2 separate regions of the Homo sapiens genome follow, and region 2 is linked to region 1. Evidence: fine-mapped expression QTL. A gene starts in region 1. The other region holds a variant in brackets. All regions are shown on one strand. Distances are from middle to middle. Region 1 holds the start of RAB32 (RAB32, member RAS oncogene family). Region 2 has its middle 25 kb from the start of RAB32.

Evidence for each region. PIP is the estimated chance that this variant, and not a neighbour inherited with it, causes the effect. A credible set is the group of variants that fine-mapping cannot tell apart.
Region 2: its variant is the best candidate, but not a certain one, in a credible set for the expression of RAB32 in whole blood (TOPMed, PIP 0.68).

The regions. Positions count from the first base shown.
Region 1 is chr6:146,541,922-146,546,182 of GRCh38, forward strand. It overlaps RAB32 (RAB32, member RAS oncogene family), which reads left to right and starts at 1,912. Exons shown (of 3, transcript NM_006834.5): 1 at 1,912-2,200. The coding sequence starts at 1,951. RefSeq lists a silencer at 1,486-1,865.
Region 2 is chr6:146,566,626-146,570,886 of GRCh38, forward strand. No RefSeq gene overlaps it. Among named protein-coding and RNA genes, the nearest start is that of RAB32, 25 kb to the left of the region's middle. The variant C/A (reference allele first, on the strand shown) is at 1,894.

The DNA of each region.
Region 1 (4,261 bases):
GTCTCACTCTGTCGCCCAGGTGGAATACAGTGGTGCGATTAAGCTCACTGAAGCCTGGACCTCCCAGGCTCAGGTAGTCGTCCCACCTCAGTCTTCTGGGTAGCTGGGACTACAGGTGGGTGCCACCACACCTGGCTGCAATTTTTTTTTAATGGTAACAGCACTTACAGTCTACTCTCTTAGCAAATTTCCAGTTTAAAATACAATATTATTAACTATAACGCTCATGCTACATTAGATCATTAGGACTCATTCATCCTATATAACTGCAACTTTGTACACTTTGACCTGCATCATTCCGTTTCTTCCCTGCCCCTGGTAACCACCACTGTTTCCACGTATTCCGTGTGTGTGTGTGTGTGTGTGTGTGTGTTTAAGATTCCACATATAAGTGATATTGCACAGTATCTTTCTTTTTGTGTCTGGCTTATTTCGCTTAGCATAATGTCCTCCAGGTTTATCCATGTTGTTGCAAATGTCAGGATCGCCTTCTAAAGGCTGAATGATATTCCATTGTGTGTGTGTGTGCGTCTGTGTATATGCGCGCGTGCATGCCTATGTATGTATTACAATTTCTTTATCCATTCATCGTTAACAGACACTTTGGTTGTTTCCAAATCTTCGCAACTGTGAATAATGCTGCATGAACTTGAGAGCGATTTCTGAGATCCTGATTTCATTTCCTTTGAGTATACACCCAGAAGAGGGATAGCTGGGTCACTGGCTTTAGCAACGATTTTTGCAATATCACACCAAAAGCCCAGGCAACCAAAGCAAACCTAGATAAATGGGACTTCATCCAACTAAAATGCTTCTGCACCGCATAGGAAATAATCAACAAAATGAAAAAACAGCCTATAGATTGGGAGAAAATATTTGTGAGCCATATATCTGATAAGGGGTTAATATCCAAAATACATTACGTTCACAGAACTCAGCCAAAATAAATAAATAAAACACCCAGTTAACTAACGGGCAAAGGATGTGAATGGACTTTTTTTTTTTTTCCAGAGGAAGTACAAATTGCCAACAGGTATAAGAAAAGGCGCTCAAAATCACTAATGAACAGGGAAAAGCCACTAGGTATCTCCTCACACCTGCTAGGATGACTGTTATAAAAAAGATAAGCGATAATAAGTGTCGGTGATGTGCGGAGCAAAGGGAACCTTGTACACTGGTGGTGGGAATGCGGACTGGAACAGCCATTATGGAAAACCCTACGGAGGTTCACTCAAAAAGTTAAAAACAGAACTACCAGCCCAGTGTTATCCGTCCTTCGTTAAGTTCAAAGTCACGGTGCCACTTCCTTTCCCATCTAAAGGGGACTGCTCGCGACCCAAGCCAAGGCCCGCAAGTGTGGCTCTCCCTGCGGGGAGAGTAGGGCAGGAGGTGGATTTCCAGGCCAGAGGCTTCCAGGCTGGGCCCGGACCCCACGCCGACCCCGGCCCCGGGGGGGGCTCAGCGACCTCGGCGCCTCCTCAGGCCCCCAGTGAACCTCCGGGGCCCATAAAGGCTCCAGGCCGGCTCCCCGGAGGCCCACCAGCGGGCGTCTGGGCCTCCCTCCGCGCCGCGACCGCCAGGAGGCGCCGCCCGGGAGAGGAAGTCCAGCTGGGCCCGGCCGGGCTTCGGAGGCGCCGCCCGGGAGAGGAAGTCCAGTTGGGCCCGGCCGGGCTTCAGAGGCGCAGGGCGGGAGCCGCCTCGCGCAGGGTCCTCCCCAAGCCGGCGCCAGGCCCTGCCCTCGTCCGGCCCTGCCCTCGTCTGGCCCCGCCCGGGCCGCGAGCACTGGCGGGTTCTGGGTCCTGTGACCGGTCAGGCGGCGTCAGCGGGCGCGGCGGAGGGCTGGCCGGCCTCGGGGGAGTTTCCGCGGCCGCCGGGGGCGCGGCGGCAGAGCGCGAGGCCGGGCAGGGGGCCAGACTCGGAGTCGAGGCGCGCCCGACAGCCGCAGCGCTCATGGCGGGCGGAGGAGCCGGGGACCCCGGCCTGGGGGCGGCCGCCGCCCCAGCGCCCGAGACCCGCGAGCACCTCTTCAAGGTGCTGGTGATCGGCGAGCTTGGCGTGGGCAAGACCAGCATCATCAAGCGCTACGTCCACCAGCTCTTCTCCCAGCACTACCGGGCCACCATCGGGGTGGACTTCGCCCTCAAGGTCCTCAACTGGGACAGCAGGACTCTGGTGCGCCTGCAGCTGTGGGACATCGCGGGTAAGCGCGGCCGCGAGTTTCCCACTCCAGAGCCCCGCCGGGCCGCCTGGCTCCTCTCTGCTTCTTTTCTTTTTCTTTTCTGCCTGAACTCGTCTGCCTGGGTACCTTTAGGAGAAGAGAGAGGCCCAATCCAAGGGCGAGATGCGATGGACGCGGTCGGCTGGACTCGGTGGGGCCCAGAGGATGGGATGGGCAGTAGGAGTTGGAGCAGGTCCTGCACGCCAGAGCTCGCTCTCCTGAAGGGAGGCGAGGAGGCCAGGGGGCCTTTTCCAGAAGTTTGAACTCTGAATAATGCAAGTATATCATACATACACCAGGACTAGTTGAGAAGGCTGCTTTGGAGCGGGCCGGCGCCTCTCAGCCTCAACTCAAGTTCAGAGGGATTGGGTGACTTAACCCGAAGCTGCACTCCTAGTTAGTGACACCACCAAGACCAAAAGCCAGGTTCCTTTCCAGATCATTTTCCACCACCCGCCTTGGCTCTGAGACTGGCCTTTGTGAGGGAAACTCCATTCCTCAAATACTTTGCTCTCATCGGAAGCCGAGGACAGACACTCCGTGAAGATTTGGGAAAGCTTTTCTGAAACCTTACACTCACCCCTTCCTCTCTTGCTAAACCAACACCTAGTCCCATCCCTGGTGCCCTCGCCCCCCCCCGCCCCCCCCCCACTCCTCAATACAGTGTTTCTCTGCCATTTGCTTTCATTTGTTCTGTTTGAGGGGGTACATTTCCCTCTGCTCTGATTTATGAACACTTGAACTTTGCCTGGTGTGGTGGTTGGGAGTGGGCGTTTTAAAGATGATGTTAACTATTGGAAAGTTCATAGAAATGGTACCAAGCCAAGTGCCAGTGGCTCACGCCTGTAATCCCAGCACTTTGGAAGGCCTAGACTGGAGGATCGCATGAGCACAGGAGTTCGAGACCAGCCTGGGCTGTTAGTGAGACCCTGTCTCTACAAAATACATACATACATATATACATACATACATACAAAAAATTAGACAAGTGTGGTCGTGCGTGCCTGTAGTCCCAGCTACTCAGGAGCCTGAGGCAGGAGGATCACTTGACCCTAGGAGAGGTCAAGGCTTCAGTGAGCTGTGTTCTCACTGCTGTACTCCAGCCTGGTCAACAGAGTGAGACCCTATCTCAGAAAAAAAAAAAAAAAGTACGAAAATTACTCTGTTCAATCATTACAGGTGTTAAGAAGCACAGTCTGCAGTACAGCATTAGAATGGGAGCTGGTTTAGGGTTAGAGGACACCTGAGGCCACCCTTCATTCTACAGTCCCTACACTGAAGCCCATGGAGGGTATAGCTACCTGGCTGGTAGCAGAGTGGTTGGGGGGATCACAGGTCTACTGTCTGTCTGCCAGGTAGTGCTCTTGTCATTTATAGCTTGTTACATAAGAAAGAGTAGTAAATAATTGTAACCTATAACTCATTCATTTAAGAGCACATTTCTGTCCCTCAGACAGGAGAATAACTGTATGCAACTCAGTTGCTCAGAAAAAAGGAGTAATCAGCCAGGGACTCAGCTTTTTGTTGTTGTTTTTTGTTACCAAAAACCAAAAGTTCGTTTGAAAAGTCATCTTTGAAGCCAGAAGTTTTTTCGAAACACTTCCTGCCGTTGCACAGAACCCTAATGAGCAGTATTTCTGCTTCTTGACAAAGTCATGGATTCTAAAGGTTGCCTTACCATGTGACGGTCATTCTCCAGGAATCTGCAGCATAGCTGAGGTTTTTCACAAAGATGGTTTTAAAACCTTGCTTACAAGGGTGATTGACCTTGCCTTACTCTTTATGTAAATTATGGCATTTTGTTATTAAACTACGATTGGGTCCCACTGCTGGTAAATCAGTATGAGTAACTAGATTTTTAAGTGTTTATAGTTAGAAACTTGAGAAAGTAAAAGCAGGAGTAAGATACAAATTTTCTTTCTGGTATCACCTCTTCTTTTTTTATTAATCACAGACCTCGAATGACAGGAAGGGGTCATATCTAGTTTTTTATCAGACTCTGATAAACATCTGCCTAGATGGGATATCCTTGTACTTTTCACT
Region 2 (4,261 bases), 25 kb after region 1:
TGCGTTTTGCCTTTCACCATGATTGTGAGGCCTCCCCAGCCACGTGGAACTGAGTCTATTATTTCTTTACAAATCACCCAGTCTTGGACTTGTCTTTCTCAGCAGCATGAAAACAGACTAATACACAGTCCCAACCTCCAGTACCTCAGAATGTGATCTTATTTGAAAATAGCGTGGTTTTTTAATGATCACCATTCTAACTGGTGTGAGATGGTATGTCATTGTGGTTTTGATTTGCATTTCACTGATGGCCAGTGATGTCATGAAACAACAGGTGCTGGAGAGGATGTGGAGAAATAGGAACACTTTTACACTGTTGGTGGGACTGTAAACTAGTTCAACCATTGTGGAAGACAGTGTGGTGATTCCTCAAGGATCTAGAACTAGAAATACCATTTGACCCAGCCATCCCATTACTGGGTATCTACCCAAAAGATTATAAATCATGCTGCTATAAAGACACATGCACATGTACATTTATTGCGGCACTATTCACAATAGCAAAGACTTGGAACCAACCCAAAAGTCCATCAATGATAGACCGGATTAAGAAAATGTGACACATATACACCATGGAATACTATGCAGCCATAAAAATGATGCGTTCATGTCCTTTGTAGGGACATGGATGAAGTTGGAAACCATCATTCTGAGCAAACTATCGCAAGGACAGAAAACCAAACACCACATGTTCTCACTCACAGGTGGGAATTGAACAATGAGAACACCTGGACACAGGATGGGGAACATCACACACTGGGGCCTGTTGTGGGGTGTGGGGAGGGGGGAGGGATAGCATTAGGAGATATACCTAATGAAAATGATGAGTTAATGGGTGCAGCACACCAACATGGCACATGTATACATATGTAACAAACCTGCACATTGTGCACATGTACCCTAGAACTTTAAGTATAATAAAAATAAATAAATTAAAAAATTACAGTGTTAGTAGACCCCTCCTAAAAAAAAAGAAAATAGGGTGGTTGCAGATGTAATTAGATAAGATGGGGTCATACTCATGTAGCTTGGCCTCCTAATATAATATGACTGATGTCCTTACTAAAAGGTGGCTATTTGAAGACATAGATAGGGAGAACATGTGAAGACAGAGGATTAGAGTGATTCAGCAACAAATCACTTGTCAGATTGCTGACAAACCACCATAACCTAAGAAAAGGCAAGTATAAAATTTTCTGCAGATTTTTGGGGAAGCGTGGTCTTGCTGACATCCTTTGTCTTGGACTTCTAGCCTCCAGCACTTTGAGACAATACATTTCTGTTGTGATACTTTGTTGCAGTAGCCCTAGAGAATGAATACATCCCCAACACCAGCTCTGCTTCTTTTATAGTTCAGGAAAAATGCTGAAGTGGAAAAATATATCACAAAAACTAAGGTTAAATTAGAAGCAGTACGAAAGAGAATAGACTATTGAAAACACAGTAAGTGATAGAATGGTGCTATAGTTTGAATGTCTCCTCCAACATTCACATTGAAATTTAATTTCCAATATAACTGTATTTGGAGGTGAGGCCTTTAAGAGGTGATTAGGTCATGATGGCTTGTCATCATTACAGGATGGGTTAGTTATTGCAACACTAAGATTGTTATAAAAGAGAGTTTGTCCTGATTTCTCCTCTCTCTCTCTCACACACACACACACACACACACACACACACACACACACACACACGGACTCACTTCTCCTTTCCACCCTTTGGCCATGTGATGATGCTTCTCTCTCTTCTCTCTCTTTCTCTCTCTCTCTCTCTCTCTCACACACACACACACACACACACACACACACACACACACATGGACTCACTTCTCCTTTCCACCCTTTGGTCATGTGATGATGCTTCTCTCTCTTCTTTCTCTCTCACACACACACA[C/A]ACTTGCTTCTGTCTTCCACCCTTTGGCCATGGGATAATGCTTGTCATGCTCATAGGCTTCCCACCCTTTAAAACTCTGAGCCAAATAAACTTCTATTGTTTATAAATTACCCAGTCTGTGGTATTCTATTGCAGCAGCAGAAAACAAACTGAAACAGATGAAAAAGACACAGTAGCGCAATGCAAACAAACCAAAAAACAAGCACAAATATCAAACAAGGAAGATAGCAAAGACTTGGAACCAACCCAAATGCCCATCAATGACAGACTGGATAACGAAAATGTGGCACATGTGCATCATGGAATACTATGCAGCCATAAAAAAGAATGAGTTCATGTCCTTTGCAGGGACATGGATTAAGCTGGAAATGATCATTCTCAGCAAACTAACACAGGAACAGAAAACCAAACACTGCATGTTCTCATCGTAACTGGGAGTTGAACAATGAGAACACATGTGCACAGGGAGGGGAACATCACATACTGGGGCTGTCAGGGGGTGGGGGTAAGGGGAGGGATAGCATTAGGAGAAATACCTAATGTAGACGACGGGTGGATGGGTGCAGTAAACTACCATGGCACATGTATATGTATGTAACAAACCTGCACGTTCTGCACATGTATCCCAGAACTTTAAGTATAATAAAAAATTTAAAAAAAATTAAAAACACTGATGAAAGAAATTTAAGCAGGCATCAATAAATTGAAAGATATCTCATGTTCATGGCATGAAACAATATTGCTAAAAAAAATGTTCATACTAGACAAAGCAATTGACAGATTCAATGCAATCTCTATCAAAATTACAATGGCTTTTTTTTTAGAGAAGTAGAAATAACAATCCTAAAATTCACTGGAACTCCGAAACATCCCAAATAGCCAAATAAATCTTGAGAAATAAGAACAAAGCTGGAGACAGCATCTTTTCTTATTTCAAAATTAAAACAGCATGGTACTGGGATAAAGACAGACACATAGACCAATGGAACAGAATCAACAGCCTCAATGAAGTCAGCAAGATGCAACCTAGAGTTAGCCAGTACTCACCCTCCTCACAAAAAGAAACTGAAGTAACAAACAAACAACTATATTTTGACTAGACTGGCTGAAGAAGTATGCTGGAGAGCACCAGGGGAGTGTCAAATTCTCTGTGGAGCCCAGAAGCCCAGGATAGCACCAGAGAGAGGACAGTGAGGCCTTCCGCCCCTGCCTCACTCTCTCTCCCACCAGAATCAACTTAGCGTCAGGAGGGAGTTCTTACTGGGAAAAGTTGAGCTGTGGATGTCTGGCAGCCCCCGTTGCCACCAAATGCCAGCTATCCTTGTTAGAGTAAAGTCCCCCAATCTTCACAGGCACCAAATTCAGTTTGCAGATTAACCAGGAGCTCAGGCAGGTACATTGTCTCAGAGTAGAAGCCTACATTGGGCACTCATCACCCTTGTGACCTAAGCTTCTATAGGTTGGTGCTATCCTAAAACTGCACCCATTACTAAAAGGGCACCCTTTTCTAGGGGCTGGTGGCAACTGATTTTTTTTTCTATCCCTGAGGCCCCACCATCATTCCACCATGTTTACACAGGTGCCCGCAGCACCATGACTCCAGCTGTCCAGAGCCCAGGCCAGAAGGAATAATCAAGACTTTGGTATCCAAACCCATGTGATATACCCTGTCTCCAAGGAACAGGCAAATCTGCACAGTATGGGAGCTAACAAACAGCAGATCAGCTACTTTGTCCATACACACCCATGACCCACAGCCAGATGGCCTGCCAAGAATGTGTGCACCTGTACCTGGCCCAACAGCTGGTCCTATGGAAGACCTGCCCCCCAACAGATTGCCACAGAGCCTCCCAGGACTGCCATGCCTATGCATACCTAGCCTGACATCTAGTCTAGCTGTAGCCTTGCCTCTTTGGAGAAAGAACCACACAGCATCCCAGTTGGCCACATCCTTGTGCCCCCAAGCCTAGCCTGACAGGCATCTGGCAGCAGCCACCAACTCTACAGACAGCCCAGTGGAAGGCCAGTCAGTCTTCTGTGCCCACATGCAACCAGCCTGACAATGGGCCCAGAGCCTCTACCCCAGCAAGACCCCTCTACTGTCATCAAAAATTCCTACAGCCTAGACCACTGAGGCAATTGCAGACACTGCTGACAGGGATTACAGTGGAAGAAAAATGCATGGAAAACACACTATACACCCAAAAACAAAGCCATTACACTATATTAAACGAACACTCAAGGTCCCATCTACAAAAAAAAAAGTCTCTCCCCATGAAAACTACACTATAAAATTAATAAGGGTGACTATTCCACTAGATATGCAGATATCTACATAGGAACACAAGAAACATAAAAAAGCAGGAAA